Regions from separate parts of the Homo sapiens genome. Here regions 1, 2, 4, 5, 6 and 7 are each reported to be linked to region 3. Evidence: microRNA targets listed by miRTarBase, many of them from high-throughput screens and not tested one by one. Region 3 holds a microRNA gene; each other region holds the end of a gene's coding sequence.

Region 1 (4,647 bases), not on the chromosome of region 3:
GTGAGACTTAGGGGATTTTAAGTAACAAGCCCAACATTGCATGTTTAGCAAGTATAACAGAGCTGGGTTGTTAACTTATACAGTATGACTGTAGGTCTTTCAATTTAGTTGTTGTACTATATTCTCCTTTTATTATAAAATCATAAAATAATTGAATTTCTGTGCTGAAAAGGACCTCACACATTATCCAGTCTAACCCCTTCACTCATTAAGTTCATGAACATAGAGATTGAGATTTGAATTTGGCCAAGTAATAGAGTTAGGGATAGACCCAGGATACTCTGACTGCTAGTTTGTGCTTATTCTGATTCTGGTGTATTACTTCACTAGGCCTAGAACTGGTAATAAGAGAACCTCTATTCTAGTTCCACTCTTTAAGGACATGGAGCAGTGTCATAGATGTAGTTTGTGCTCATTAATTATTTGTTCTAATGAACAAATGAATGAGCTCTTTTAAATGATGTGATTATTGGCAATACCTGATTTATGAGTAGGGCCTCTTCGTAAGAATTTTCCTTGTTGGCCTCCTAAGTAAAAAAATTACCCTAAACTTACTAGTAGTTAAGGAAGAAAAGCTCCACAAAGTTCAGCTCCAAGAACGTGACAAAATCTAAAGTAATGAGCCCAAGTGATAGTCCATTTATATAGCATTTATTGTTTGGGTTTGGCTCATTTTTATATCATCAAGGATATATGGTATAGTAGAGTAATCCAGAAAAGAGAACATATTGTATGGGCATAGGATGCTAAAAAAGCTCAGTAGACAATTCTGGCCTTCTCTGTTACATAGATTATCTGACTCCAGAAAAAGAACGCGTACAGGAAGATCTTGGCCTGCTGCAATACCACATTTGCGGAGAAGAAGAGGTCGTCTTCCAAGAAGAGCACTCCAGACTCAGAACTCAGAAATTGTAAAAGATGATGAAGGCAAAGAAGATTATCAGTTTGATGAACTCAACACAGAGATTCTGAATAACTTAGCAGATCAGGAGTTACAACTCAATCATCTAAAGAACTCCATTACCAGTTATTTTGGTGCTGCAGGTAGAATAGCATGTGGCGAAAAATACCGAGTTTTGGCACGTCGGGTGACACTTGATGGAAAGGTGCAGTATCTTGTGGAATGGGAAGGAGCAACTGCATCCTGACTGTAGGACTGAACATTATGTTCACTGCACTCTGATTTTCTGTAGGTACAGTTCAAAGCCCTAAAGGAGTCTGGCTTTTACTATCTTTCTTAAAAAAAAAAAAAAGTCAAAAAAATTCAAAAAAGGGGATGATACTAGCCTTAACATGTACCTGTCAATGTTATGGATATTGTCATAAAAAGGTATCTTTTAAAAATCAGAACAGAGACTTAATTTTTTAAATCTTAAGATTTGTAGAATGTTTCTAGGATAGGATATTAAAAATGATTGAAACCCATGCATGGTGTTAGACAATTTTTCTAATTATTCCATTGAGTCAGTTTTTTGTGATTAGTGATTATCAGAGCAAACATCATGTAGATAGCACAAGTATTTGGAGAAACGTTGTTTGTTTTGTTACCAAAATGTTGGAAAAATTTATTTCAATACCTTTTAGATTTCATAAAGTGCAGTGTATATAATGCCTACTGAAAGACTGTAAAATATTGAAATTTTCTTTCAAGCAAAGTGTAAAAAAATATATTGAGCCTGTAAATTGCTCTGTGACTAGACTTCATTGTCGTCTTAATATATTCTTGCATGTGCATATATATACACACGTGTATATATATGTGTGTGATTATGTGACCTATGCAATACAAATTATGGGAATGGGCAGCTTTGGAGTATATATCCCATAATTCTTTTTTCAGGAATAGTTGCAGTATTTACACAGCAGCATTTCTTCTCAGGCTTTTATTGGGTGCTGTTGCTTGCTATGTATGAAGAGAAATGTGTCAGACAAGTTTAGTGTGTTCTGAAGAAGGGTGTGAACAACAGTGTTCATGGGCTTTTAGAATGCTTTTCACTTTTAGTCCTTGTAACTCAGCTGTTCAGTACCTAAAACAAATTCAAATAATATGAACATTATCTCCTACTAGAAGTAACGTTTTCAAGTTTTCATGGCACATTATGATTGTAAATGTCTCTCATTTTTAACAGTAAGTCTATAGGAGTCCCGTGAAGATTCCTGAAATGTCTGTAGTAACTGTTAGTCATGTTTGAATAAGTGTAGTATGAACAAAGTATTTTATTGCACAGGGTTAACAAACAGTATGTTGCCAGCTGAGGCTACTGCTGTTTTATTACAACATTACCTCTTGTTTTTATAAAGTGTACCAAGATTTAAATTGATAACTTTATTTTACTTGTAAAAAAAAAGTTTCTTTTATCACCAGTGTTACAGTTGTCTTCTGTTTCTTTTTGTTTTGTTTTATTTGTTTTCCTTTTTAGCCAAAGAGTGAACAGAAGATTTTCTTATTTTGGTGGCTATTCATTTTACTTTTAAAAGTGATTGGTGGATTTTAGACTAATTATGGGGGAATTTGCCACCAAAATAAAAAATATGTAAAGTGTAGTGATTACAGAGTGGTTAAAATGTGGGTTAGTACTTATTTATTCCATTAATTGATTATTTGACTGTTTATAAAGAAAGTTGCTTTATTTCTTTAAACATCTTCAAAAGATGATCCTTTCTTGTCACATTATAGCCAAAAGAAGCAGAGAACTTCATTGTCTGCATTTGGTTCCTGGTTGGCCAGGTATAAATGAGCTTTACAAAAGTGCAAATTAAAAACTGTTACTTCTGTTTACCTCCACCAAAACTTGATTTTCCCCTAGCTATTAATTTAAGGTTGCCTTTCCTGCAGCTGCAATATTTTGAATAACACACAGAGTTTGTGTTGATTTTTGAATGTTTGTTTATATCTAGGGGTAATGAAAAATGTAAATCCCGTGTATCCTTATTCACTCCACCTGTATCATATTATTTCATTTTCCCCAAAGTCCTTTAATTCTAACTGAACACCAGCAGTATTTTTAGAAATTTTTCTTTAACATACTTGGAAGATGATTTATCCAGCTGAACTGTCTTTAGACGTAATTATTGTGAATGTCTGTTTTATTTTCTCATGGTGGTTCACATGGCTCTGATGTTCAGTTTGTATTTTTGGAATTGCTTTACTTAGAAATTAAAACAGACCAACATTAAATGTGTGTATTTTTTAAAGAGCTAATGAGTTTTGCTTCTGTATTTGCTTGAAAATACACACTAGTGCAGTAGTTGACTGCTTTTATTTAGCTAGGGTGGTAAGGATTTTCTAATTCCACTGCTAGTATGTTCACTTGAATTAATCTTTATAAAACTTTGCTTTCATTTTCTTCATCCCTCTTATAATATTAATAACTATCACATGTTCATCTTAAGTGGTCTTAAAGTACGTTTAGTGAGCATGTACACTTTATATTTGAAAGACAATATATCTCTATTGTGTCCCCAAACTTTAAAAAATTCAGACTTAATTTTCCAACTATGTTTGCTTCTTACATAGAATTGTTAGGGTTCATATAAAAGGATTTCCTGGGCCAGGTGCGGTGGCTCACACCTGTAATCCCAGCACTTAGGGAGGCCGAGGCGGGTGGAACATGAGATCAGGAGATTGAGACCATCCTGGCTAACACAGTGAAACCCCGTCTCTACTAAAAATGCAAAAAAATTAGCCTGGTGTGGTGGCAGGCGCTTGTAGTCCCAGCCACTCGGGAGGCTGAGGCCGGAGAATGGCGTGAACCCTGGAGGTGGAGCTTGCAGTGAAGCAGTGAGCCAAGATCGCACCACTGCACTCCAGCCTGGGCAACAGAGTGAGACTCCGTCTCAAAAAAAAAAAAAAAAAAAGGATTTCCTGTACTTTTAAAATAAGTTTTGCCCCTAGGCATATAAAAGATGTGGAAACAATATACCTTACTCATTGTAATTCCATTTTTATTCAAAACAAATACATTTTTATAAATATTCTGCTACTAAGTGATAAATGTGTATTCCTAGACCCTTAGACCACCAAACTAGAGCCAGAATATAAGCTATCAGAGTTACTCTATAAATTCTAATATAGGGGTGATGAAGCCAGCTCTTGCTACATATATTCTTTACTAAATATTTAACAGAATTGAATGTTCACTGATGTGTTAGAGTTGAAGGTGCCCCCGGCTTTTTTTTTTTTTTATTTGCAAGATATGTCCAAGTATGCATGGTTGTTTTCTATAATGTGTATGTTGAGTATATCTCTATTATCTGTGTTGGGGGTAGAACTAACTGTTTTGGGCCACTTTATTGAGTTTCTACTAGGTACTATTAAATTTTGGTTGGAATATGATCTGACTTAGGCAGTTCTACCAGACTGTTTTACATTGTGGTTCTAGAGTTGTTTGAATGAGGATGTGATGACAAAGAAGATGCTCATGCAGCGTTGGGAAACAGTTTTGTTTTTTTGTTTTTTTAAGCCCTGTTTTTGTGGGGAGATTTTTCTTAGTTATATTTGAGTACCTCAATGAATGTACACATCACAGTCCCCTTTGGTTTTTTTTCTGTGGCAGTTGATCAGTCATGTTCAGGAAAATAAAAACTGGACAGTGAAATGTAAGGTAAGAACTTTATCTGATTATGGATTCTTTTCTAATTGGCAGC
Region 2 (4,328 bases), not on the chromosome of region 3:
TAGTGAAGTTAAACAAACATTGGGATACCGACACAGACAACTTGAGACAGTTTTTTTAATCTTTTAATCAGTGTAGCTATGTGCTGCTGCTGCTCAAGAGCTGGATCCATACAGGTTGTGTGTCATCTGTCCTCTTGAGGTTCAGGAGATTCTAAATTGAATATTCCACGGTTTGGGACAGCATCCGGAAGTTTTCCCTATGACTTTATATTTTGTATTATGTCAAATGTTATGGCAGGGCCCAAATAGCATAGCCACAAGTTTGGTTTATGTGGGCATAAAATTCTAACCAAACCCCAGACATAGGGAGTCATTTGGAGAAAGCCTGTATGTGGTGTTTTAACCTAATAAAGTTGATGAGAGAGAAGGGGAGAGGAAGCGAACATAAAGCGGGTCAAGTGTAGTGCATCTTTTGTATCTCAGGCGTGGCTTCTTCAGTGGACCAAGCTGCAATGCAGTATTGACTTGACAGAGCCTCTACTTCTGTCTCAAAATGGCTCCAAATGATTTCTGTACTGCAAAATAAAGCCAAATTCTGGAAACTACTGCCCGGTGTTGGTTTGTGTGTCCTGATTGCAAGGGTCACAGCTGCCGTGCTTCCTTTGGTAGCACTGGAGTCAATGCCAGTCAGAATGCTCAGCAGCGGAAAGCGTGGGTGTCTTCTGATCTGGAAGGATCACAGCAGGTCCTGTCGTCTGGCTTCCCTGTGAGTAGACCTCGAGTTTTATTCTTGACACAGTACCATTACTAGACCTATCATCTTTGTGCAGAAAAAATAGTGTTTAATGATTTTGCTTGTAGCAGCAGTTATAAGGGAGTAAGTGAACTGTCAGGTAGAGTAGGTGCTTTAGTAAATAATTTTTGTGTAGTTGAAATGATAAAGTGTTTACATATAAGGCCCTTTCCCCTGACAGTGATGAGCCTCACGGCAGATGCTGTTGTTTACCACAGATAAACACTGACTCTTCAGAGTATGAAGGAGACAGACTAAGGTAGATGATGTGTTAAAGGAACTAGGGTGGTGATTTAGATTGTTATTCATATTGCCAAAATGATGGAGCTTCTCGACTTCAGTTGATGTTTTGGGCTGGATCATTCTCTGTTGATAGGGTTGATTGTAGCAGCATCCCTGGCCTCCACACACTAGATGGCAACAGCACCATCTTGGAATGACAACCAAAAATGTCTCCAGATGTTGAGAACCACTGCTTTACCTGTATGATAAAATTATCTGAAGTCCCAGCAAGCCTTTTTCTCTTCCCATGCAAAGGCCCAAGCTGGGTTAGTAATAAGTGAAAAAAGAAAAACCACGCATCTTCATATTCTTCATTCAACGTATTTACTGAATACCTTGTGTGCCAGGCCAGTGGAGACAAAGATGATAATGGTAGTTACTGGGATAACTCAGTTTGGTGAACACATGATGTGGTTTGGTTATTAGTAGAGTTACAGAAAAGGTAGCATGGAAACTGAGATGGCCTCGTGGGTGTTGGAAGGCTTTTCAGCAAGGGGAGGTGAATGTTATTAGGTCCAACCTGAAAGGTGCATATTTCAGGCAGATAGATAGGTGTTTGGCATCTTATAACTGCTCACTTTCCTTTTCCTTAGTAATCTGAAAGTAATTCACTGTACTGAATAGTTAATGGTTCCCTTAATAGACTCTTGTCCTTGGAAAAATAAAATGAAATGACTGGGGTTCTATTAGTAACTGAAAAATTGTCAACAATTAAAACTCTAAAACCTACTCATGAGAAAATAAAGCTCTTTTGTTTAGGAATAATAAAAGCCGACTTAATGACTTCTGAAAGAAGTAAGTGTCCCTGTAAAGGCCAGGTGAAACTGCCATTCTTTAACCTGTTACTCGGTGTACTTGACTGCGGAAAGAACCCAGAAACAGAACAGGCCAGGCCCAAAGGATAGAAGTGTAGGTTTCCTCTGGAAGCTTACTGTTCTGCTAAATGACCTAAAAATTGCTAGAACACTCCAGATAAGTCAATTTCTGCTATAAAAATCATTGCAGAAAGAGATTATTTTTAGTTGTCTTTATTTAAAAAATGAAACACATTAGTTACAAAAACCGTTGCTCCAAATAGATACCGTGTATCTTACAAATGTTTTTTGCTTGGTTTTGAGTGTTTACTGTAGAAATTTTCAATATCATAAATAAATGATTATTTCTTTCTCAGAAAGCTGATTTTTGTAGTGTAGTATTTACAAATACCGTAAGTGAAAAATGATAGTTTATAAATTTGTACCATTTAGGAAAAAATGTTTTATGTAGTGTTGTTTGTGTAACAGCAAATAAAACCATTTAAGATTATAGTTTTTACAAGGGTGGTAAAACCTTTAAAACAGAGCATAATGTGCATCGTATGCCTTTCTGACATTAGCATGCAAAAACAAAGCTATTTGTTAAAATAGACTTATTTTTGCTCCAACTAAGTAAACATGTAAAATTATTTTTAATAAGCTCAATAGCTTAGAAGGCATCTTGTTTAAAATGAAAATAATTTAAAACAATATCTAGCACTGCAACCCAAAGCTAACAGACAACTGCAATGCCACTGTGACATATTTCAGCAAAATATAAAAAATGAAAACTTTCCAAGTTGTAGAACATTGGTTTTTCAAATGTAAGACTGTTCACATGTGTATTCACATGTTCACAAGTTTTCCAAAGGGAAAATACTAATTTTTTATTGGCATCATCCATATCCAGGCAGGCTGTAGTTGAGTCACCTGAAGAAACACAAAATTGATAAAGAACTTCTTAAAATAATACGAACAAGAAATATTTTATAAGCGGGATGCTCTAATGGGGAAAACGCCTATGCATTCTAAGGTTACATTATGTTCTGTACTGACGATCCAAGTTAACAGCAAGTGAAAATGCACATTAGATAAAATAGGTAATTTTAGTAGATGGTTACTTCATTTAGTGATAATTTAGGAATTCCTATTTATGCCAAATAGCAATTCCACCCCTAAACAAACACTTTAAATTTATAGCATGAAGTATGTAAACAACAGTTTCCCAACTGTTTCCCTTAGACACAAATGTCAATATTTGCCATCAACAACTCCAACTCACATGGGAAAGTTACATAAAAAGTGTTCTTACCAATAGCTACTCCTAAATGGAGCTGCTATTTTTTCTATGTTTTCTATAAAGTTATTTACATCTGTAACAAGGATTCCACTATTTTCAAAGACTTCTCTGGGGATAGTAGGCTTGTCTGTTAAAAAAAAAAAAAAACAACTTTTGGTTAATATAATTAATGTACTTTTATATAACAGGACCTGGTTTTTTATTTTAAAAAATCTGTGGAACTTCCTCGTGTGAGGGGTAGGGGGAGAAAAGGTGTTGGGTTCCAAATTAAGAAAAGATTTGAAGCTTTGGAAATAGATGCCTCCATCGGGGGTGGTGGTTAAAGTACTGAAAAAAAATCCCTGAAAAATGATAACTATGGTTCTTTACGTAAATTTTTCTTAACACTTTTTTTTTTTTTTTTTTAAAGATAGATAGGGTCTTGTTCTGCCACCCAGGTTACAGTGCAGTGGTGTGATGACGGCTCACTGCAGCCTCGAGCAATCCTTCTGCCTTAACCCAAGTAGCTAGGACTATAGGCACACATCACCACACCTGCCAACTTCTGTAGAGATGAGGTCTCGCTAAGTTGCCCAGGCTGGCCTCAAATTCCTGGGCTCAGTGATCCACCTGCTTCAGCCTCCCAAAGTGCTGGCATTACAGGCGTGAGCCACTGTCCCTGGCTGCCCCACAAATTTTTTAAAAGCAACCTCTGCCTCCGGGGTTCAAGCCATTCTCCTGCCTCGGCCTCCCAAGTAGCTGGGACTACTGGCATGAACCACCACACCTGACTAATTTTTGTATTTTTAGTAGAGATGGGGTTTCACCATGTTGGCTAGGCTGGTCTCTAACTCCTGACCTCAAGTGATCCGCCCGCCTCGGCCTCCCAAAGTGCTGGGATTACAGGTGTGAGCCACTGCACCCAGCCCCAGTATTGATTTAAAAAATAATACGGTATAACTACTTATACTGTATTGAGTATTATAAGTAATCTAGAACTGACTTACATACATAGGAGGATTGTGTAGTTACCTGCAAATACTACATTTTATATAAGGGCTTCAGCTTCAGCAGATTTGGGTGATTCTGGTATCCATGGGATGCCAAGCCATTTAGATACCTGATACTCTTCATCAGGTATCTAACTTTGACATTCCTAGAGCTGACCAATTTTGGCATTAACTGAGTAAAATGCGCCTGTGAATTACCTGTTAGGAGGACAGCAAACCTGGCATCAATA
Region 3 (3,000 bases):
CCAGGCTTCAACATTCTGGACCAGTTTGGCATCGAAATACCTCCAGCCTCTAACAGTTGTCCAGAGGTCTGCCCACAAGCACAGGCTATGCAAGTTAATTACGAGGACAGTCTTAAGTTGCCTTATAGTTACCTAGACCTTTCCCCTACATAATTTCCAGAAGTAGTAACAGTGAAGGAATTGAATACCTCTTCCTATGGACAGCAGGAAACTGCTATCCCTTTCCTCCTCCACAAAGGAAATAACTTCCCACTGTCTTTTAAGGAAACAGAGAAACTTCTATCAATCTATCAGCGATTGTCCTTTCATAAGCTGAAGCTGCCGGTGGCAACATGTAGCTTCTACATTTGCCTTCTCCAGAGAGCCCCTGAGAGAGACTAGGGGTCATTAGAAGGGAAATAAATATTTTATTTTGGGAAAGAGAAAATTATAACCACTTATTTGAATTTGAATAAGGTTTGTACATATCAATGTAAACCAACAAAACAATCAAGCAGAAGTCCCCAAAACTTGTCCTTTTCAATCCTTCTTCAATGAATAACACATTGAAATATTTGGTTTTACATGTTTCATTTACCATATTTAGCTAAAAGAACCATCTTTGTGTTACATGCAGTCACAGAAGACTACACGCAACTGAAAAGAAATTCAACAGGGCTGGGCGTGGTGGCTCATGCCTATAATCCCAGCACTTTGGGAAGCCAGGGCAGGTGGATTGCTTGAGCTCAGGAGTCCAAGACCAGCCTGGGCAACATGGTGAAACCCTGTCTCTCACAAAAACAGGAACATTAGCTAGGCATGGTGGCACATGTCTGTGGTCCCAGATACTCAGGAGGCTGAGGTGGGAGGATCACTGGAGTCCAGGAAGTTGAGGCTGCAGTGAGCTGAGATCACGCCACTGCACGCCAGCCTGGGTGACAGAGCAAGACCCTCAAAAAAAAGAAGAGAAATACAACAGTAAAAGGAGTTTTATGGAAAATGTAACCCAATGGAACATATACCTTTTTACTACCTTACTCAAAATTGTTACAGCCACTTTATTAGAACAGCAGTTTACCAGAATACCGATTAAAAATCTACAAAAAACTATAAAATTAAAGCAAGCAATAAACATCTAATTAATATCTAATTACCTTTCTGAAATAAGAGTTGTGATCAGTAAATTAGAGACAATCACAAAATAATGCTAAACCGCTTTAAATTTCCCTTTAGAAATCTCTTAAAATGTTGTTCAACGGGCCATGATCTGTGGTATAAGATACCAGGTATGGCTATAAAGTAACTGAGACGGATCCCACAAACGACATATGACAATCAGTCTCATTGCTTTATAATCACACCAGGTACAAACGGTTTTAGAAATCAGTTGAGGCTCCCTCTTGAAGACTCAAGCTGGAAAAGGAGTAGGGAAAGGAGTAGGGAAAGGAGTAGGGAAAGGAGTAGGAAAGGAGTAGGGAAAGGAGTAGGAAAGGAGTAGGGAAAGGAGTAGGAAAGGAGTAGGGGAAGGAGTAGGGAAGGAGTAGGGAAAGGAGTAGGGAAAGGAGTAGGGAAAGGAGTAGGGAAAGGAGTAGGGAAAGGAGTAGGGAAAGGAGTAGGGAAAGGAGTAGGAAAGGAGTAGGAAAGGAGTAGGGAAAGGAGTAGGAAAGGAGTAGGGAAAGGAGTAGGGAAAGGAGTAGGAAAGGAGTAGGAAAAGGAGTAGGAAAGGAGTAGGGAAAGGAGTAGGGAAAGGAAAGCTGAACAGGTAGCCAAGGAAACCAATCCATGTGATTCTATTCAAAGAACACTAAATAAGAACACCAACTAATTTCAACGGGAAAGCTGTTTGGGAAAAGAAGTGTGTAATTATTTCAACCATCCATTCAACAATATTTATTGAGCACATACTATGATCAGGCTCCTTTCACCTCTTAAAGAGAGTAGAAAATTACCTGCTCTTGATGCAAAAATCCACACGCCCTCAGGAGCAAAGGGGGAACCTTTTGGACTAGGAAGAGAAGCCGCTCGCGGTGGCGTCATTACACCAGCACAGAGAAGAGCCGGGCAGAGGAGCCCGACCCTGCCGATCGGGCAGGAGGACAGCAGAACGAAAGCCCGCCACCAACTTGCAAAGGACTGGAGTTTTAGGTCTTAAATCTTTTACAGAATCTGGCGAAAGTTATATAGGAGTCCCCTCCTAGGAGAAAGGGCCTTCTCCCCATACTCCACCCCTAAAGCCTGATAGGGCTCAAAGACCCTGACCTAAAGCTGCCTCAGACACTTGACTTTTAAGGATCTGAGGAGCTCTGGCCCAGTTTCACGCCAAAGGAAATGTAGGCTTCACAATAAAGGGCCGGTCAGAGGAGGCAGTGACTGAAAAGAGTGAAGAATAATTAGACTGTAACGCTGTAAATATCAAAGCACATTTGGGACATGCCCCACCACTCCCATGTCCCAGGCCCTGGGCAAACACTGCTAGTAAGTCACGGATGCGGCCACGCTCCCACGCACTTCCACGTCTGGCCGCCAGTACTAACTGTCAGAGATGGCAATCCAGTGAAAGCCCATCTGTGATCCCTGCTTCCAACTATTTTCTTGAGAAACTTCCCCCACTGTTATTCTTTAACAGGAACTTCTGTTTCCACACTGCTTGAGTCTGGCTACTTTAATAAACAATTCTATTCTTTCCACTTTCATCCTGAGAATTTTCAAACCCATAGAGCAGTTCCAATACTGTGAGAACACTCATGGACCTTTTATTTAGATTTGTCAACATTTTGTCCTTTCTATATGTATTTATTTTTGCTGAACCAATTAAGAGTAAACTGCAAACACATGACATTTTATTCTTAAATACTTCCACGGTCCCTCCTAAGAACAAGGCTAGCTACGTGGCCACAATTCATTTACTTATCCTCAAGAAATTTAACCCTGTGTTCTTTAATAGATGGTCCATTTTCAGGTATCTGTGGTGATGACTTTAATAGCTGTTTAACTTGTTTAGTTTTGTGTCCAGGATTCAAT
Region 4 (4,588 bases), not on the chromosome of region 3:
ATTTTTGTATTTTTTAGTAGAGACAGCGTTTCACCATGTTGGCCAGGCTGGTCTGGAACTCTTGACCGCAAGTGATCTGCCTGCCTCGGCCTCCCAAAGTGTTGGGCTTACAGGAGTGAGCCACGGCACCCGGCCCTGGCTGCCTTCCTAATTATTAGCTGGGAATGCTTAGGCCCCTAGTCAGACTGAACTGCCTGGAGATTTTCAAATACTCTTTCCTGCCTCCTTGTCTTGGCAAATACTATAGGCATAGGCTGAAATAAAAATTTTTCTCTCTACTCCCCCAACTCCTACTTTAAAACAGGGAAAATTCTCTGTGGAATTTGCTAGGGTCTCCTCCAACTGGATTAGGCCTCCTCCAATTCTCCTGCTACTCCCCAAACACGCAGACATACAGACACAGACACACACAAGCACACACACACATGCACAAGCACACACGCACACACAAACACAAACACACGCGCGTGCGCGCACACACACACACACATAATTCCTGCCTTATGCTTCCAGAGCATTCTGTCTAAACTCCCATCACACTTCTCACCGTGTGATACCCCTTTTAAAAACCTTTCCTGTTCTTCTGATATGGAGAACCAGGATCCATTCTGGCCATGGAGGCTCCCACATATGGGTGCTTACTGTATTTTTGTTGAATGGGTAAGATACAAATGCTGCCCTGCCCCCCACATCTGTTCTGCTGGGAATCCATACAGGCTGTTCTGAGAAACCCTCATGTGGAGTATAGAAAGGTCAACTAAATACTCTGAAAAAACATGCAATCCTCAGGCCATGGCTTCATTATTAGTTTACTAGCAGATGAAACTTTCTAAGGGAATGTCAATTGCGTACCCTGGTTACCCTCCGATGATGAGAAAAATATAGTCAACCATACACCCTGGACCCCTTTCTCAGAAAATCCTATCTGCTGGACAAATCCCCCTTTGCTGTGGGCCAGGGGATGAACTGAGTGAATAAAATATTGAATCCATGGTTTCTGAGTTCCTTCAATGAACAAACTAAGACCCAAAGCTTACGTGTGGCCTTGTGTTCCAGGATGCTAATACAAGTGTTATTTTAACTGCAGGCTTGAAAGCCTGTATCTAAGCACATCCTTGATACAATTAAAACTATTAAACTAAGACGCTTTCCCCATGTAGCACGTGTAACAAATAAATAGACAAACATACCCAGGTCAGATAAAAGTGATGCTTCAGAGGCCAGGCCTTCCTGTCTTCATGACTGACTAACATAGAAGTATCGTTACTTAAAAGAAAAAGAGAAGCTTGGTTTCTCCTAAAGAACCGGTATAGTCTAGTGGCTGGGAATGAAGGCCAGAGTTCCTGGATTTGATTTCTGGAGTTATTAGCTGCGTGTCATTGACCAAGTTACTGCACCTCTCTGTGCTTCAGTTTTATTACTATATTACACACGCACATGCCCTTAGCATTTATGTCATGGCACTAATTAAGTGATGTATTAGTAATACACAAAAAAAACACTTAGAAAATTGTCTGACTGAGAGTAAACACTCAGTGAAAGTTATTACTGTGATCTCATGATACAAATATGATTAACGAGCTATTTAATCTTTGCTGCTTTCATTTCTTCAATTACAGTGAGATGTCCTGAGATATATTTGTTTATCCTTGTGCCATAAATTTCTAAACTGAACCAATCCTCCCTGTTCTACTGATGTTTATTTTCACCTCACATTAAGTAATGAATGTATTATGAAGCTAAAAATCATCCTTATGCAATTAAATTGATTCCAACTTTTGTTCTCCATGAATGGTAAAGATGACACGTTTGTGATAATCTACTGGATGTGTTATTATTCTCCATACCATTGTGGAGTGCATCCAAATTGCTTTTTAATTTGTCTCCCATGTTACAGCCTTGAAATCAGAAAATAACGTAATATACTGCAAGAAAACAACTTAATACATGCTAATGTGAAAAGAGGAGAAGATATACTTTGTACCCTATTGAAAACAACAGTGGCAGAGTAAATAGTTATGAGTATGTATAATACACTTAACTCTTGAACTACATTTAGCATCCAAGTGTGCTTCAATTTTTGAATAGAAAATAAAGATTTTCACTGATGGGCCCTATCAGGAGAAGGAAGTTATTTCTAGCACACGCAGTGAACATTAAGAAAGCTCAGTTCATAAGGATGGGAAAGTAGGGTTATGGAGCCGAGGGCCTCTTTACAGCCTTCTCTTTCATACTCCCGTAACACAGCACAGTGAAAATGAAACAGGGAAAATTTCTATGGAATTGTCTAGTATGTCCCCAGCCTGGGTTAGGCTTCCTCCAATTCTCCTGCTACTCCGCAAACCCTTTTTCTGTTTATAACTTTTTTTGGAGTTATAGCTGTCTCTACAAATCTCGTGAAAATTATCAATATTCCTCTTAGAAAAATGCACACACACACACACACACACACACACACACAATTTTGCATATTAATGTGTTATCTTCCGGAATGCTCTCTTGGAAAGAACTCATTTTTAATAAAGTGCTTTGCATTATCTTCAGTGAACGAGTAAATTACTATTTGAAAATAGAATTTGCCATTTGATTTTCTTTTTAAAAACATAGTATTTATAATCCTGACTTGTAACCCTCCCAGCAGATGTGAGGTAATTCACTTGTTTTGACTTACTGTGATCAGCATTTTGAAAAACACTTTAGGTGTTTCTAAAATGCTTAACTTGTGGAAAAATTTCATTTTTGTTAGGAAAGCATAGCAGGCATTTACGTATGCTGTCCTAGAAACATTTTATTATAGTTTTAACGGGAAATAAGCAAAGAGATAATATTATTTCTATATTTGTTCCTATTAAACAAACAGTAGTAACACACAGAATCTTGGTCATCACTCAGACTCTAAACCCAAAACATATTGCTTGGGAAAAATAGATGTACACATGTACATAGCTACTGTAATCATAGAAGAAATTTTTCAAAAGTATGAAGAGAAAGCCTTTTAAAACTCATCCTTAATGGATACATAAATAGAAATGCCAAGGAGTCAATCTATGAACTTCTATATCTATATTTTATATTTTAAGATTGGGACAGAGAAACTTCCCAGATATTTGACGTAAGAATTTGTTTTGAAAAAGTTTGGTAATTAATATAAAACTACTCTAAAATTAACTTTTATTGTTAGAGACACATCTTTAGAAAAGTTTGTAAATATCAACATTTACCATCTTATTTTTTCCTTTGAGACCAAGCATCACAGACCAAAAGCCACAAAGTTTACAATAATTTATTATTGTTGCATGACATTTGCCAGTAAAATAAATTATAGAAACTATAGAGTCTTTATAAACTATTTTGTATATCATATTCACTTCCTAATGCTTACTGCAGTAACTGTATGAAATTTAATTAGATTACGTTTTAGCATTAGTCAGAAGATTTAAAAAATATGTAAAATGTTTTCACAGTACTTTGGATTTATAAAAGACCCCATTATTTTAACTTTTGTGCAACCTGTTTGAAATGTATAAAAAACCTTTTACAAACCAAAAGGTGGCGTAAGGTTTTACTGAGTTGCTGAAGACATCTTACTTTCTTGAATTTCTACTTAACATCCATGTGGTGCACTTTTTCAGGCATTGTAATAAGTGCAAATAAATAATCAATTATTGATTTCTAAAAATCTATACCAATAGACAATACTCAGGCTTGGAAATATTTTGAACACTCAGATATAAAAATTCAGTAAACAATTTATGCATGGTATTTTCTCTCCCTGTCCTCCCTCTCCCTCCTCCCTTCCCCTATCTATTTGGTTAAAAAAAAAAAAAAAAGTTCAACTTCGATTTAAGTCCTAGGGCCTGACAAAGTGACCCTGGATAAATGTCATCTCCAGCCATCTGTTTTCTTTAGTTCTCATTACATCTGTCCAGGCTCTTCTATCAGCATCAATCCTTTCCTGCAGGGACGGAAGAGTTTTCAAATCCTTGCTGAAAGCATTTTGTTCTCCTCTGTAACAGCACAGGGCATGAAATTGTTTGGAGTCTTTGTAACCAGTCTGTTCAGTCCTGGTCCCTTTCCAGTCCCGGTCCCTTTCCAGCCTCTGGAGTCCTGACAGAAGAGAAGCTTGTAAGGTAGCAGCAAAATGCTGCATCTGTTAGAATCTCACAAACTCACTTGGTCTTTGAATGTCCATTCTTGGATAACGTCCTTATCCATCCTCTTCTCTTCAGTGAACTTTGATGGAATATTTCCGCAGTTTCAGAAACTGGAAAAGCTTGTCTTTTGTCCTCTTCTTCAAGGCCATCAGGGCACGCGTTTTCTCCTCCACATCTTGATCTATGGCAAAAATGATCTTGGCTCTCTCCTCTGCTTTCTTGTCTCCAGAGTTTCTGAAGAGCCTTTCTAGTGATTCTTGGTCTGTGTTTTCAAAGATGTTGCCCACGGCTTTCTTACGAGAGGCTGTGTCGAAGTGGTAGCCATGGATGGATGGGCTGACTCGTAGCGACGTGGACATGATGACGGCTTGGTGGCTTCGCTTTGCTTTCATCGATGTGGGGATCTTCCGGAATTCAGCTCCCAGGCTTTCCAG
Region 5 (4,647 bases), not on the chromosome of region 3:
TGTATATGAATTTTCTCATTACAATCGTTTTACAGTAAATTTAAAACTGCAACGTGGACTTGAGAATGTAGGCAAGATTTATCATCTTTTCTTTACTAATGATAAATACCTTCTTTGGACCTCAGTTTCTTTATGGAATGTGCTCTACTACTTGACATTTCACGTTCCCTTTTATGTAATTAAAAAAAAAAAGTTTATTCATTTAGAGATGGAGTCTTGCTCTGTCGCCCAGGCTGGAGTGCAGTGATGCGATCACAGCTCACTACAACCTCCGCCTCTTGGGTTCAAACGATTCTTGGGCCTCAGCCTCCCAAGTAGCTGGGATTACAGGTGCACACCACCATGCCTGACTGATGTTTGTATTTTTAGTAGAGATGGGGTTTTGCCATGTTGGCCAGGCTGATCTTGAACTCCTGGCCTCAAATTTTTGTGCCTCGGCCCCCCAAAGTGCTGTGATTACAGGTGTAAGCAACTGTGCTTGGCCTGATAGGATTTTTTTCTTTTTTCTTTTCTTTTCTTTTTTTTTTTTTTTTTTTTTTTGAGATGGAGTTTCACGCTTGTCCATGCTGGAGTACAGTGGCGTGATCTCAGCTCACCACAACCTCTGCCTCCAGGTTCAAGCAATTCTCCTGCCTCAGCCTCCCGAGTATCTGGGATTACAGGCATGCGCTACCATGTCCAGCTAATTTTGTGTCTTTAGTAGAGACGGGTTTCTCCACTTTGGTCAGGCTGGTCTTGAACCCCAACCTCAGGTGATCAGCTTGCCTTGGCCTCCCAAAGTGCTGGGATTACAGGCATGAGCCACCACTCCCGGCTGATAACGATTTTTTTTTTAGAAAATGTCTAGATGTTCTTTTAGGGTAATGCTGTCATGTAATAGGATAATAACTGTTTCTTAAAGATGGTTCAAGCTCCCAAGTTGGTATTCTGCAGACATAACTGTTCTTTGCTGTTTAGAAATAGGGGAGTAACTCCAGAGTTCATTCCTTTGTATATGTATAGTGTTGTTCATTGTATAACCTTATTTATTTACCTGAATTGTCATTATGTGTGGTTTTACTGTGAGAGAATGTCTGGTTTAATGTATTTTAGGAAAGTGTTTTCTGTGGCTTATGTATATAATATATAGGAAGAGATTTGGATCAAGATAATGACCTTTAAAAATTTTTGTAATGAATATTTTATTTTTAGGTACCTGGCAAAGAATTCTGCAACTTTGTTCAGTGCCAGCGATTATGAAGTGGCTCCTCCTGAGTACCATCGGAAAGCTGTGTGAGAGGCACTCTCACTCACTTATGTTTGGATCTCCGTAAACACATTTTTGTTCTTAGTCTATCTCTTGTACAAACGATGTGCTTTGAAGATGTTAGTGTATAACAATTGATGTTTGTTTTCTGTTTGATTTTAAACAGAGAAAAAATAAAAGGGGGTAATAGCTCCTTTTTTCTTCTTTCTTTTTTTTTTTCATTTCAAAATTGCTGCCAGTGTTTTCAATGATGGACAACAGAGGGATATGCTGTAGAGTGTTTTATTGCCTAGTTGACAAAGCTGCTTTTGAATGCTGGTGGTTCTATTCCTTTGACACTACGCACTTTTATAATACATGTTAATGCTATATGACAAAATGCTCTGATTCCTAGTGCCAAAGGTTCAATTCAGTGTATATAACTGAACACACTCATCCATTTGTGCTTTTGTTTTTTTTTATGGTGCTTAAAGTAAAGAGCCCATCCTTTGCAAGTCATCCATGTTGTTACTTAGGCATTTTATCTTGGCTCAAATTGTTGAAGAATGGTGGCTTGTTTCATGGTTTTTGTATTTGTGTCTAATGCACGTTTTAACATGATAGACGCAATGCATTGTGTAGCTAGTTTTCTGGAAAAGTCAATCTTTTAGGAATTGTTTTTCAGATCTTCAATAAATTTTTTCTTTAAATTTCAAAGAACAATGTGCTTGTGTTGATGCCTTACAAAAACCATTGTATATTTGTGTATTCCTTCTTGTATTTAGACAGTGGTTTTTCAGGTGCGTGCTTTGTTTTCTGGTATGGCCTTTATGGAATGAGACGCTTTAGCTTTGGTACGTAGCGCTAATCCATAGCAGCTTTGGCAGTTTGCTGTCTTGAGTCTTAGCTAAAAAGTTAGAAGTTTACATGACTGTTTTTTTTATTTTCCCTAAATTATTACTTACTCTGAGCATTAATTAAGGGCATTTTCACCTGTGTAAAATTATGGTCAGCTTTTTTCTGTCTATAATTGTTTACTTTTGTGGGTTTACTCTAGAAACATGAGCCAAAAATGTCAATAGACAACACAGTATTAAAATAACCCAAAAGTTGTAAAGGGCAACGTTTCTCCCCTTTGATAGGGACACTAAAGTGGTCTGTACTTGGGTAGAGGATGGCAGACGTTAAGAATTAAAATGCGTCTGGGTGCAGTGGCTCACGCTTGTAATCCCAGCACTTTGGGAGGCTGAGGCGGGCGGATCACCTGAGGTCAGGAGTTCGACACCAGCCTGATGAACATGGAGAAACCCCATCTCTACTAAAAATACAAATATTAGCTGGGCGTTGTGGCGCACGCCTGTAATCCCAGCGACTCACGAGGCTGAGGCAGGAGAATTGCTTGAACTCAGGAGGCAGAGGTTGCAGTGAGCCAAGATTGTGCCATTGCACTCCAGCCTGGGCAACAAGAGTGAAACTCTGTCTCAAAAAAAAAAAAAAAAAAACCCTCAGAAAACAATTAAAATGCAAAGCAGCAGATAAGTTCAGATGGCGAGAGTTACAGCAGCAATACAAGAGGGATAATGAGTGCAGGAGGGAAATAGGAGTAAGTTCCAAAGAAGCAGGATTTGCTTGGGTTGTTTGAAGGGAACTGCTTCTACCCATAGTTGTCTTCCTGCCGCCTCCTTCATTCGGCTTACTTGTTCTCTTTTTCTTTACCCTTTTTGTCACAACTGTACTGATTTAGTTGGATTTCTAACAAATAGGGATTGTTGTTGCCTGGGGTCTTTCAGCTGTTGAAAGTTCTTGTTTATCTAGATGTGACTTAAAAAATGAAACACTTCAAGAATTTACGTGTCATTCTTGGCACAGGGGCCATGCTAATCTTGATTGTTTGAATTTTTAATATTTTTGCTAACAAAATGAGCCCTAGATGTGATTTTTTTTTTTAATGTGTACTCATGGTCCCTTGAACATTAGTGTTACTGGTTAGGTATTTAAAGATTTTCTTGCCGAGCGTGGTGGCTCACACCTGTAATCTGTAATCTCAGCACTTTGGGGCTGAGGTGGGAGGATTACTTGAGCCCAGGAGTTTGAAAGTAGCGTGGGTAACGTAGGGAAGAGACCTTGTCTCTACAAATAATTTTTTTTTTTTTTTTTGAGGCAGAGTCTCTCTCTGTCATCCAGGCTGGAGTGCAGTGGTGTGATCTCGGCTCACTGCAAGCTCCGCGTCCTGGGTTCATGCCATTCTCCAGACTCAGCCTCCCGAGTAGCTGGGACTACAGGCACCCGCCACCATGCCTGGCTAATTGTTTGTATTTTTAGTAGAGATGGGGTTTCGCCACGTTAGCTAGAATGGTCTCGATCTCCTGACCTCGTGATCTGCCTGCTTCGGCCTCCCAAAGTGCTGGGATTACAGGCATGAGCCACTGCACCCGGCTTCTACAAATAATTTTATGAGTAGCCTGGCATGGTGGCGTGTGCCCATGGTCCCAGCTACCTGAGAGGCTGAGGCAGGAGAATCACCTGACCCCAAGATATCAAGGCTGCAGTGAGCTGTGATTGTACCATTGTGTTCCAGCCTGGGTGACAGAGCGAGACCCTGTCTCCTAAAAAAAAGTTGAGGACTCGATCTTTTCGTTTATATTATCAATATTTACTGTGCTAGAAATTAAAACTTTAAAACTTAAAAATACGTGTCTTCATTAGTCATCAGAATGATACCGTCACACATCATGTAACCTCAGGAAAATTTCATGTACACTCGAGAAAAAGACTGATTTAAAATAGCTTTAACCTCATAGGCAGCATGAAAATATCTCAGGTACTGCAGAGATCTCTGGACCACTCGTTGAGAACTGCCGCTATAGATATTTGTGTCCTGAGGGTTGTAACAGTCTTAGGGTTCTGTATTCAGAAATTTAAACATTCCTTCACAAAACCTGAAAGTCAAGATTTTGTTCGTTATTCATTAAGCCTCCTCCCTCCATTTAAATATAGCATTAGAAAAGAACATTGATAGGTTTACCTGATGACACTAAAAGAGGCAGTAATCTTTGGACATTAAATCTACAGAGTATTTTGAATATGTTTTCATTTACTAGTAATTTTAATGTCGCTCCAGAATATCTTACATATTAGTAGTAAGTAGCTGGAATGATGTAATCAAAATCATACTGATTAATAATTACTTACCAAAACATGAAATTAGATGAATATTAATATTAGTACCGTTAGGTTTTAATACGGTTTTTTCTTTATTTTTTATTTTTTGAGACAGTCTTGCACTGTTGCCCATGCTGGAGTGCAGTGGCGCGATCTCGGCTCACTGCAACCTCCGCCTCCCAAGTTGAAGCAATTCTCCTGCCTCAGCCTCCCGAGTAGCTGGGACTACAGGTATGAGCCACCGCACCCAGCTAGTTTTT
Region 6 (4,647 bases), not on the chromosome of region 3:
CTTTATCATATAAGAACATGACCAGAATTAACAGAGTTATATCATTTTGATCACTACAGATTGAAAATCCTGGAGATGGACTATTTGCTCCTTTGCCAACTTACTCATACTGTAAGCAGATTAGTGCTCAGGAGTTTGATGAGCAAAAAGTTTCTACCTCTCAAGCTGCAATTGCAGAACTTTTAGAAAATATTATTAAAAACAGGAGTTTACCTCTAAAGGAGAAAAGAAAAAAACTAAAACAGGTAAGAGAATGAGCAAGTTCTCAATCATGTAAACATTTTCTAATGTGCTGTTCCTGGTTGTTAATAACATTTAGAATCTACTTTCTTATTTTAATATTTTAGATTTTAAGTTTGAGTTATATAGACTATATATTATGATGTCTTGTATATGTGCGTTAACCTAAAACATGTGAGTACCTACCTGATTTTGCTCTTTATCCTGAATTTTAAAATAATACCAACAGTAATAATATATACTCTCCTTTTTCACTGGTATTTTGTATAATTATAGCTTGGATTAGCCTGGGAAAGCAATTTATAAGGTATGGATATGTATCTTTGAGTGACTTATCACTGTTTTAGAATTTTTAGCTCTGAAAGCCCAGTAGCCACATGATTTTGGCATGTCTAATTCTAAGTCTGAGACACTGAAAGAAATATGAATACTAGATGCCTATGCCCTTCATAGGTTTTATCAGTGGGAAAGAAGATCTGGAATTTAGGGGGAGAATTAACATCGGAAGAGAAAGAATCCTAAAATGTTAATGTTAATGAGATCTAAGAGATCTTATAGTATTCACATGAGAAGAGAGAGGGAAAGGCAAGGATAAAATGAAAGGATACTAATCTCTATACTACGTCTTTGAGAAAAACACTGAATTCTTATAAAATGTTGAGCACTGCTTCAGCTTGGGAAATAATGTTAAATACCTTCTAATTTCTCACCTCATTTTTAAGTTTCAGAAGGAATATCCTTTGATATATCAGAAAAGATTTCCAACCACGGAGAGTGAAGCAGCACTTTTTGGTGACAAACCTACAATCAAGCAACCAATGCTGATTTTAAGAAAACCAAAGTTCCGTAGTCTAAGATAACTAACTGAATTAAAAATTATGTAATACTTGTGGAACTTTGATAAATGAAGCCATATCTGAGAATGTAGCTACTCAAAAGGAAGTCTGTCATTAATAAGGTATTTCTAAATAAACACATTATGTAAGGAAGTGCCAAAATAGTTATCAATGTGAGACTCTTAGGAAACTAACTAGATCTCAATTGAGAGCACATAACAATAGATGATACCAAATACTTTTTGTTTTTAACACAGCTATCCAGTAAGGCTATCATGATGTGTGCTAAAATTTTATTTACTTGAATTTTGAAAACTGAGCTGTGTTAGGGATTAAACTATAATTCTGTTCTTAAAAGAAAATTTATCTGCAAATGTGCAAGTTCTGAGATATTAGCTAATGAATTAGTTGTTTGGGGTTACTTCTTTGTTTCTAAGTATAAGAATGTGAAGAATATTTGAAAACTCAATGAAATAATTCTCAGCTGCCAAATGTTGCACTCTTTTATATATTCTTTTTCCACTTTTGATCTATTTATATATATGTATGTGTTTTTAAAATATGTGTATATTTTATCAGATTTGGTTTTGCCTTAAATATTATCCCCAATTGCTTCAGTCATTCATTTGTTCAGTATATATATTTTGAATTCTAGTTTTCATAATCTATTAGAAGATGGGGATATAAAAGAAGTATAAGGCAATCATATATTCATTCAAAAGATATTTATTTAGCAACTGCTATGTGCCTTTCGTTGTTCCAGATATGCAGAGACAATGATAAATAAAACATATAATCTCTTCCATAAGGTATTTATTTTTTAATCAAGGGAGATACACCTATCAGATGTTTAAAATAACAACACTACCCACTGAAATCAGGGCATATAGAATCATTCAGCTAAAGAGTGACTTCTATGATGATGGAACAGGTCTCTAAGCTAGTGGTTTTCAAACTGGTACACATTAGACTCACCCGAGGAATTTTAAAACAGCCTATATGCCCAGGGCCTAACTTACACTAATTAAATCTGAATTTTGGGGATGTTGTATAGGGATTAGTATTTTTTTTAATCTAGGTGATTCCAATATTCAGCCAACTGTGAGAATCAATGGCCTAAATGCTTTTTATAAACATTTTTATAAGTGTCAAGATAATGGCACATTGACTTTATTTTTTCATTGGAAGAAAATGCCTGCCAAGTATAAATGACTCTCATCTTAAAACAAGGTTCTTCAGGTTTCTGCTTGATTGACTTGGTACAAACTTGAAGCAAGTTGCCTTCTAATTTTTACTCCAAGATTGTTTCATATCTATTCCTTAAGTGTAAAGAAATATATAATGCATGGTTTGTAATAAAATCTTAATGTTTAATGACTGTTCTCATTTCTCAATGTAATTTCATACTGTTTCTCTATAAAATGATAGTATTCCATTTAACATTACTGATTTTTATTAAAAACCTGGACAGAAAATTATAAATTATAAATATGACTTTATCCTGGCTATAAAATTATTGAACCAAAATGAATTCTTTCTAAGGCATTTGAATACTAAAACGTTTATTGTTTATAGATATGTAAAATGTGGATTATGTTGCAAATTGAGATTAAAATTATTTGGGGTTTTGTAACAATATAATTTTGCTTTTGTATTATAGACAAATATATAAATAATAAAGGCAGGCAACTTTCATTTGCACTAATGTACATGCAATTGAGATTACAAAATACATGGTACAATGCTTTAATAACAAACTCTGCCAGTCAGGTTTGAATCCTACTGTGCTATTAACTAGCTAGTAAACTCAGACAAGTTACTTAACTTCTCTAAGCCCCAGTTTTGTTATCTATAAAATGAATATTATAATAGTACCTCTTTTTAGGATTGCGAGGATTAAGCAGGATAATGCATGTAAAGTGTTAGCACAGTGTCTCACATAGAATAAGCACTCTATAAATATTTTACTAGAATCACCTAGGATTATAGCACTAGAAGAGATCTTAGCAAAAATGTGGTCCTTTCTGTTGCTTTGGACAGACATGAACCAAAACAAAATTACGGACAATTGATGAGCCTTATTAACTATCTTTTCATTATGAGACAAAGGTTCTGATTATGCCTACTGGTTGAAATTTTTTAATCTAGTCAAGAAGGAAAATTTGATGAGGAAGGAAGGAATGGATATCTTCAGAAGGGCTTCGCCTAAGCTGGAACATGGATAGATTCCATTCTAACATAAAGATCTTTAAGTTCAAATATAGATGAGTTGACTGGTAGATTTGGTGGTAGTTGCTTTCTCGGGATATAAGAAGCAAAATCAACTGCTACAAGTAAAGAGGGGATGGGGAAGGTGTTGCACATTTAAAGAGAGAAAGTGTGAAAAAGCCTAATTGTGGGAATGCACAGGTTTCACCAGATCAGATGATGTCTGGTTATTCTGTAAATTATAGTTCTTATCCCAGAAATTACTGCCTCCACCATCCCTAATATCTTCTAATTGGTATCATATAATGACCCACTCTTCTTATGTTATCCAAACAGTTATGTGGCATTTAGTAATGGAATGTACATGGAATTTCCCACTGACTTACCTTTCTGTCCTTGGGAAGCTTAAACTCTGAATCTTCTCATCTGTAAAATGTGAATTAAAGTATCTACCTAACTGAGTTGTGATTGTAGTGAAAGAAAGGCAATATATTTAAATCTTGAATTTAGCAAGCCCACGCTTGATTTTTATGTCCTTTCCTCTTGCCTTGTATTGAGTTTAAGATCTCTACTGATTAAAACTCTTTTGCTATCAAGTTTCTTTTCTTGTGTCTCACAATATATTTTCTACCCTATCAGTGGTAATATTTTCTTTACCTCGTTTTTGGTGAAATGAAAGATGGTTATGGAATTTTATATCCTGGTAATCTGTACGACCAAGAGATATACCACCCTTTTATTTTGAAAGTGGAGAGAGAGAGAGAGAGAATGTGTGTGCATGCATGCGTGTGTGTGTGGGGGGGAGGGTGGTATTGTTGAAGAATTTCTGGGAAAGAAATGAAGGATAGCTAGTTTTAATATTGAATTAAATTGAAAGAAAATCGTTTCACCAAAATTAATTTAACAGTTCTAAATACAGTAAGTACAGCAACTCAGACTTATGTATTTACTCAGAATTAACTTCTATTAAGAATTTTTTGTTTTCTCAGAACTGGGAGAAACATATATGTTAGTTGTTTTTATGTCTTCTGAAAACCTCTCAGAATGTGTAGTGAGGAAACAGAATTTATTAGACAAGTAAAAGTATTGTTCGACTTCTGCTCATTATAAAAACTCACAATTTTTCTACCAAAGCATAGCTTCATGTATATTAATGGACTTCCAAATTGTCCCTTCTATCATAAGCAACTAGGAAATGAGCTAAAATATATGAAACAACCCTTTTCAAACATTGGACTACAGGTAATGCAGGGCTATGATCCCCAAGAGAGGGAAAACAGGTGATGAGCCTTGTGATTTCCCCAACTTATTGCCTGAAGGCAGTTGCCAGCAGAGGAACCAAAATAAAGCCCAGTGGTCTCAC
Region 7 (4,372 bases), not on the chromosome of region 3:
GATAATGGTGCCTCTGAAGGGCCAGAGAGATTTTGATTATGTGAAGATGACACCTAGTGCTAACTTCTTTAGGAAATAAACACTATGCAGATGCACTAACGCTTCCTTTAATGGCTTAACACACTCTTCAATTGACTTTTGGGTAAAGCTAAAGGTTGTGTTGACCAGTTTCGTCTGCGAGGAGCCTATAGAAGCCACGTCTAAAGTTGAAGTAGCTGGAAACTGCAACTTAGAATAAGATTGCTTCTTCAGCCACAACTGTAGTGTCCCTGCCACTTGCCACCACAACACTGTTCTCCTTTTTCAACTGTAGAGAATCTCTTTCACCTGTCAAACACGATTATGCAGCCCTCTCTATAGCATGCTCTACGGTACATATCACTACAGCTGTTTTATATGTAAAAGAGACTTACAAAGACATTACTATGCATAGTGCCTGATACAGAGACCAAAACTTTAATTCCTGCAAAATTTTTTTTTATAGCAATGGCAACAAGTGAACGAGGACAACCACCACCATGTTCTAACATGTGGACCCTTTATTGTCTAACTGATAAGAATCAACAAGGTCACCCATCACCGCCACCTGCACCTGGGCCTTTTCCCCAAGCAACCCTCTATTTACCTAATCCTAAGGATCCACAGTTTCAGCAGCATCCACCAAAAGTCACTTTTCCAACTTATGTGATGGGCGACACCAAGAAGACCAGTGCCCCACCTTTTATCTTAGTAGGCTCAAATGTTCAGGAAGCACAGGGATGGAAACCTCTTCCTGGACATGCTGTCGTTTCACAGTCAGATGTCTTGAGATATGTTGCAATGCAAGTGCCCATTGCTGTTCCTGCAGATGAGAAATACCAGAAACATACCCTAAGTCCCCAGAATGCTAATCCTCCAAGTGGACAAGATGTCCCCAGGCCAAAAAGCCCTGTTTTCCTTTCTGTTGCTTTCCCAGTAGAAGATGTAGCTAAAAAAAGTTCAGGATCTGGTGACAAATGTGCTCCCTTTGGAAGTTACGGTATTGCTGGGGAGGTAACCGTGACTACTGCTCACAAACGTCGCAAAGCAGAAACTGAAAACTGGTAGGTACACTTTCCTACCATAATATTTAGGCCTTAACACACGCGCGTTTTAAGCATTTTGATTTCTTGACCTGGAGATTTAGATATTTAAAAACAATTTGAGATAATAAGTTGGGGTATACTCTAACTTCCTGGGGTTACTGTCTCCAACTTCCTAAACACCAGTTACTAATAAATGCACAGCAGGTGCACTGTACCACAATGACTCATGCCAAGGATTTGATGCCCGATACATGAAACTAATGAACTCAGTCACCTTTGAATACCTAGTCCATTGTCTAACAAACACAGTGGTAGATGCGAAAAGGGGATGGATTTTTAAAACAGGACAATTTAGTTGGCATGTTTAGGGAGTAGGGAGGAGCTGGGAACAACTGAAGAGCAAGGTAAGAGAGAAAGTCTTGATTATGTAACAGAACACTTAATCCACGTGGTAAGAGGCAGTAGATGGAGAGGTGAGAGGCAGAGTAAAGAGCTAAACAACAGCTGAGATTAACTGTGGATGAGACAGTTTGATCACTCACAAATCATTTTTTAATTTTTCATTCATACTTAATGCCAAACCTTATGCTAGCCCTCCTCCCCTATGTGTGGACAGTAGCGTGAGCAAAAACATGGGACCTACATCTTAGTTGGGGAGACAGACAAAAAAGTGTATTACAACATGTAAAGTATTATGGAGAAAACAGGGTGCTGACACAGGCCTACCTTTAATTGTCACTATTAGGTAGGGTGTTCAGGCTCAGATGTAAACTGACACCTGAGTATGAGAAGAAGCCAGCTTTGCAGGGTGCGCCCAGGCTGTGTCCTAGGGCAGAAAAGAACACGGGGGTTCCAGAGACAGCGAAGTAGGCCACAGTGAGACTGGCTGGGGGGAAATGGGGAGATTATATAAAATGAAGAAAGATTTTGATTGAAAAGTTCAATGGGAAGCCAGCACAAGTGTTTTAAGCAGAAGAATGACTGATTGCTGTTTTTATTAGATCACTCAGGCTGCTATGTGGAAAACAGATTAGCAGTAAGGGGGAGGTCAACAGAGGAAGTAGGGAGATGAGTTGAAAGTACAGAAGTGTTATACACCAATTAGTTACTTAAAATAATTAGTGGGAATTTTAAGTTGAGCATCTGAGAGATCGACAAAAGCTAGATTTCATTCATAAGCAGGCTCAAGGACCAGTTACTATATTTAAGGAAAGACAAAATTATCTTATCTTAGGGCTACATGTACTTCTTCAACCTCTTTATGGACTTCTGGTGGAATTGCCAAAATGGCTGTTTTCAGCATGAAATTGCTGGGATATTTCAGTGCAAAAGCCCATAGGTAACTAGTTAAGCTTAGTAACAGAGCAGGAGGGTAGACCTTGCATTTCTAATCTTCTGCTCATTTCACATGTTCGGTTTCATGTTTAACTTTAAACAATTCAATGTTTGCATTATTCCTAACAGATCCAGAAATGACGCTGTCTGGGTCAACATTTCAGGGAGGAGTCTGCCACCAGTGTAATGTATCAATAAACTTCATGCAAGCATACAATTTTGTATTGCTTTTTTTTGTAATTTAGGAGGACTACAACCAACCAACCAAACACAAAAGGCCTATCAATCATCTATCTTTTCAGACTTATAAAGCAATAGCATTTTCCAACTCCTATGTGTATACTTTTTTAAACTATTCCCACTCTAACAGATCTAGTAACAAATTTTCTAACCAGGTAGTTCCACTTGATTCTGCATTTGAGATTCACACCGAATGAATACGGTAGCACCTCTCTATGCTGTATCTATCTAGCATTCAGTTAATCTCTGGATAGATAAATGCCTACTTACCACTATGCATGCCAGGTAACTGGTTATCATCTCCTTGACCCTGGGAGCTATGGTACCACAAGGACTTCTTTCGTAGGACACGTCTAACAATTTAGGATAGTATTAAGTGGCAACATTAGTATATTTGAAATTTTAAAAGAAACCACACTTTTGGGGAACATTCTAAAGCCTTTATTTAGCATCAGGTAGATTATTTCATTATAACACTTGTTAACTTCAAGACAGCAATTAAAATCACGGACTGGCAGCTACCTAGGCCCCTGGGAGCAGTATCTCAGTCTGGGGTTTGGGTGGATAAATACTATAAGATTTAAGATGAATGTGCCCCAATTAAAGGGGCAAAACTACTGTACAGTAGGTCTCCACACATATTTTAAGTACACAGGTACTTTGCAAACTTGAAATGCACAAGGCCTCCTTTTATATAGTTTGATACTTACATGAGTGCAACTTACTTTCCCTAGTGGCATTTGCCACTGGAAGTGGAAGCATTTAACAAGGTTTGTCATTATGTAATGGTGATTAAAATCTATATTTCTAGGGCATTTTTGTGAATTGCTAGATTTTATACATATTTTCAGTTCAAATGTAAACTTAACCATTTTAATGATACTGACTGCAGAAAACTGTAAAAGTAAATTCAGAGCACTAAGTAAATGAAATACTTTTCCAGTTTAATTCTTTAGAATTTTCAAATCAGAAATATCTATTCTGAATATTCAGGCATTTTTTTTCTTCTTGGAAGATGGAAGGGGTAACATTGGGAGGATTAGTATGAATAAAAGCCATCTTATCAATGAAGTCTTTATAAAATGACATAACCTCTATATCTGAGAATAAACATTGTATAGGAGGAGAGTTCTAAATATGTCAAAGGTTACATCTAAAACATTCAAGCATGACAGCATAAAAATATTCAAAATAACTTGATTTGGGATTACTATATAGTTCCATAAAGCTAAAGTTACATTTAGGTATAAACCTTCAGTAAATATGGCAACAGCAACCATAAAAAGCATATTCCCCAGCAGTGTTCTCTTACCTCTATATAAAATAGTATTCCAAATAAGTACATTTTATAGCAAAATTATGCATTTTTCCTAAGACTTTCATCACCAATATCGCCTTATACCCTGCTTTTGTTGGGTGAAATGCAGTTATCTCATGAGTGTTTTTTCATTTTTTTTTTTAAAAGATAAGTAGAAACCAAGGGAAAAAAATTTAAAAACATAGGTTTAAGACTTATTTGTAGATTAGCCAAACACCCTGACTTGTATGCATTTTAATAAATGTCAGGCAAATTGAAGTAATTTCTGTCCCAGTAGCTGCCAGAGTAAATCCAGTCCTGTGCTCCATTGTAGGGATTAGGACCTTGATGGAACCACCTGTTAAAAGAAAAAGGACAAGACTTACAGGGGAAACTATGGAAAATCACAGGCTGTTTCTTCACTAGTTTGCAGTAT

The links. The annotated mature microRNA hsa-miR-340-5p reads UUAUAAAGCAAUGAGACUGAUU and lies in region 3 at 1,313-1,334, opposite strand. An mRNA with a match to its seed (bases 2 to 7 or 8) in the 3' UTR can be bound and repressed. Matches are read on the target gene's strand: a 7mer-m8 pairs with bases 2 to 8, a 7mer-A1 pairs with bases 2 to 7 and ends in A, and an 8mer does both.
Region 1: miRTarBase lists MTF2 as a target of hsa-miR-340-5p. Seed matches in the 3' UTR shown: 7mer-A1 at 2,293-2,299 and 7mer-A1 at 2,610-2,616.
Region 2: miRTarBase lists TASOR2 as a target of hsa-miR-340-5p. Seed matches in the 3' UTR shown: 7mer-A1 at 2,242-2,248.
Region 4: the mRNA of TCIM is a reported target of hsa-miR-340-5p. Seed matches in the 3' UTR shown: 7mer-A1 at 3,475-3,481 and 7mer-A1 at 3,340-3,346.
Region 5: miRTarBase lists MORF4L1 as a target of hsa-miR-340-5p. Seed matches in the 3' UTR shown: 7mer-A1 at 1,594-1,600.
Region 6: miRTarBase lists DEPDC1 as a target of hsa-miR-340-5p. Seed matches in the 3' UTR shown: 7mer-A1 at 2,203-2,209 and 7mer-A1 at 2,215-2,221.
Region 7: the mRNA of OSBPL1A is a reported target of hsa-miR-340-5p. Seed matches in the 3' UTR shown: 7mer-A1 at 3,715-3,721.

The regions. Positions count from the first base shown.
Region 1 is chr1:93,135,880-93,140,526 of GRCh38, forward strand. MTF2 (metal response element binding transcription factor 2) reads left to right here. Exons shown (of 15, transcript NM_007358.4): 15 at 791-3,197. The coding sequence ends at 1,148. Among named protein-coding and RNA genes, the nearest start is that of TMED5, 42 kb to the right of the region's middle.
Region 2 is chr10:5,761,440-5,765,767 of GRCh38, reverse strand. TASOR2 (transcription activation suppressor family member 2) reads right to left here. Exons shown (of 22, transcript NM_001321783.2): 20 at 4,297-4,328; 21 at 3,122-3,236; 22 at 2,028-2,739. The coding sequence ends at 2,736. It overlaps GDI2 (GDP dissociation inhibitor 2), which reads left to right. Exons shown (of 11, transcript NM_001494.4): 11 at 1-545. Among named protein-coding and RNA genes, the nearest start is that of GDI2, 50 kb to the left of the region's middle.
Region 3 is chr5:180,014,049-180,017,048 of GRCh38, forward strand. MIR340 (microRNA 340) reads right to left here and starts at 1,349; the gene lies at 1,255-1,349. All of the region lies in intron 2 of RNF130 (ring finger protein 130), which reads right to left.
Region 4 is chr8:40,153,491-40,158,078 of GRCh38, reverse strand. TCIM (transcriptional and immune response regulator) reads right to left here. Exons shown (of 1, transcript NM_020130.5): 1 at 2,769-4,588. The coding sequence starts at 4,546. The coding sequence ends at 4,226. All of the region lies in intron 3 of LINC02866 (long intergenic non-protein coding RNA 2866), which reads right to left. Among named protein-coding and RNA genes, the nearest start is that of TCIM, 2.3 kb to the right of the region's middle.
Region 5 is chr15:78,895,792-78,900,438 of GRCh38, forward strand. MORF4L1 (mortality factor 4 like 1) reads left to right here. Exons shown (of 12, transcript NM_006791.4): 12 at 1,192-2,348. The coding sequence ends at 1,276. It also overlaps the pseudogene RNU6-415P. Among named protein-coding and RNA genes, the nearest start is that of MORF4L1, 25 kb to the left of the region's middle.
Region 6 is chr1:68,473,385-68,478,031 of GRCh38, reverse strand. DEPDC1 (DEP domain containing 1) reads left to right here. Exons shown (of 12, transcript NM_001114120.3): 11 at 60-245; 12 at 963-3,880. The coding sequence ends at 1,100. Among named protein-coding and RNA genes, the nearest start is that of DEPDC1-AS2, 3.4 kb to the left of the region's middle.
Region 7 is chr18:24,158,988-24,163,359 of GRCh38, forward strand. It overlaps OSBPL1A (oxysterol binding protein like 1A), which reads right to left. Exons shown (of 28, transcript NM_080597.4): 28 at 3,065-4,294. The coding sequence ends at 4,192. CABYR (calcium binding tyrosine phosphorylation regulated) reads left to right here. Exons shown (of 6, transcript NM_153769.3): 5 at 485-1,082; 6 at 2,529-2,613. The coding sequence ends at 2,529. Among named protein-coding and RNA genes, the nearest start is that of CABYR, 22 kb to the left of the region's middle.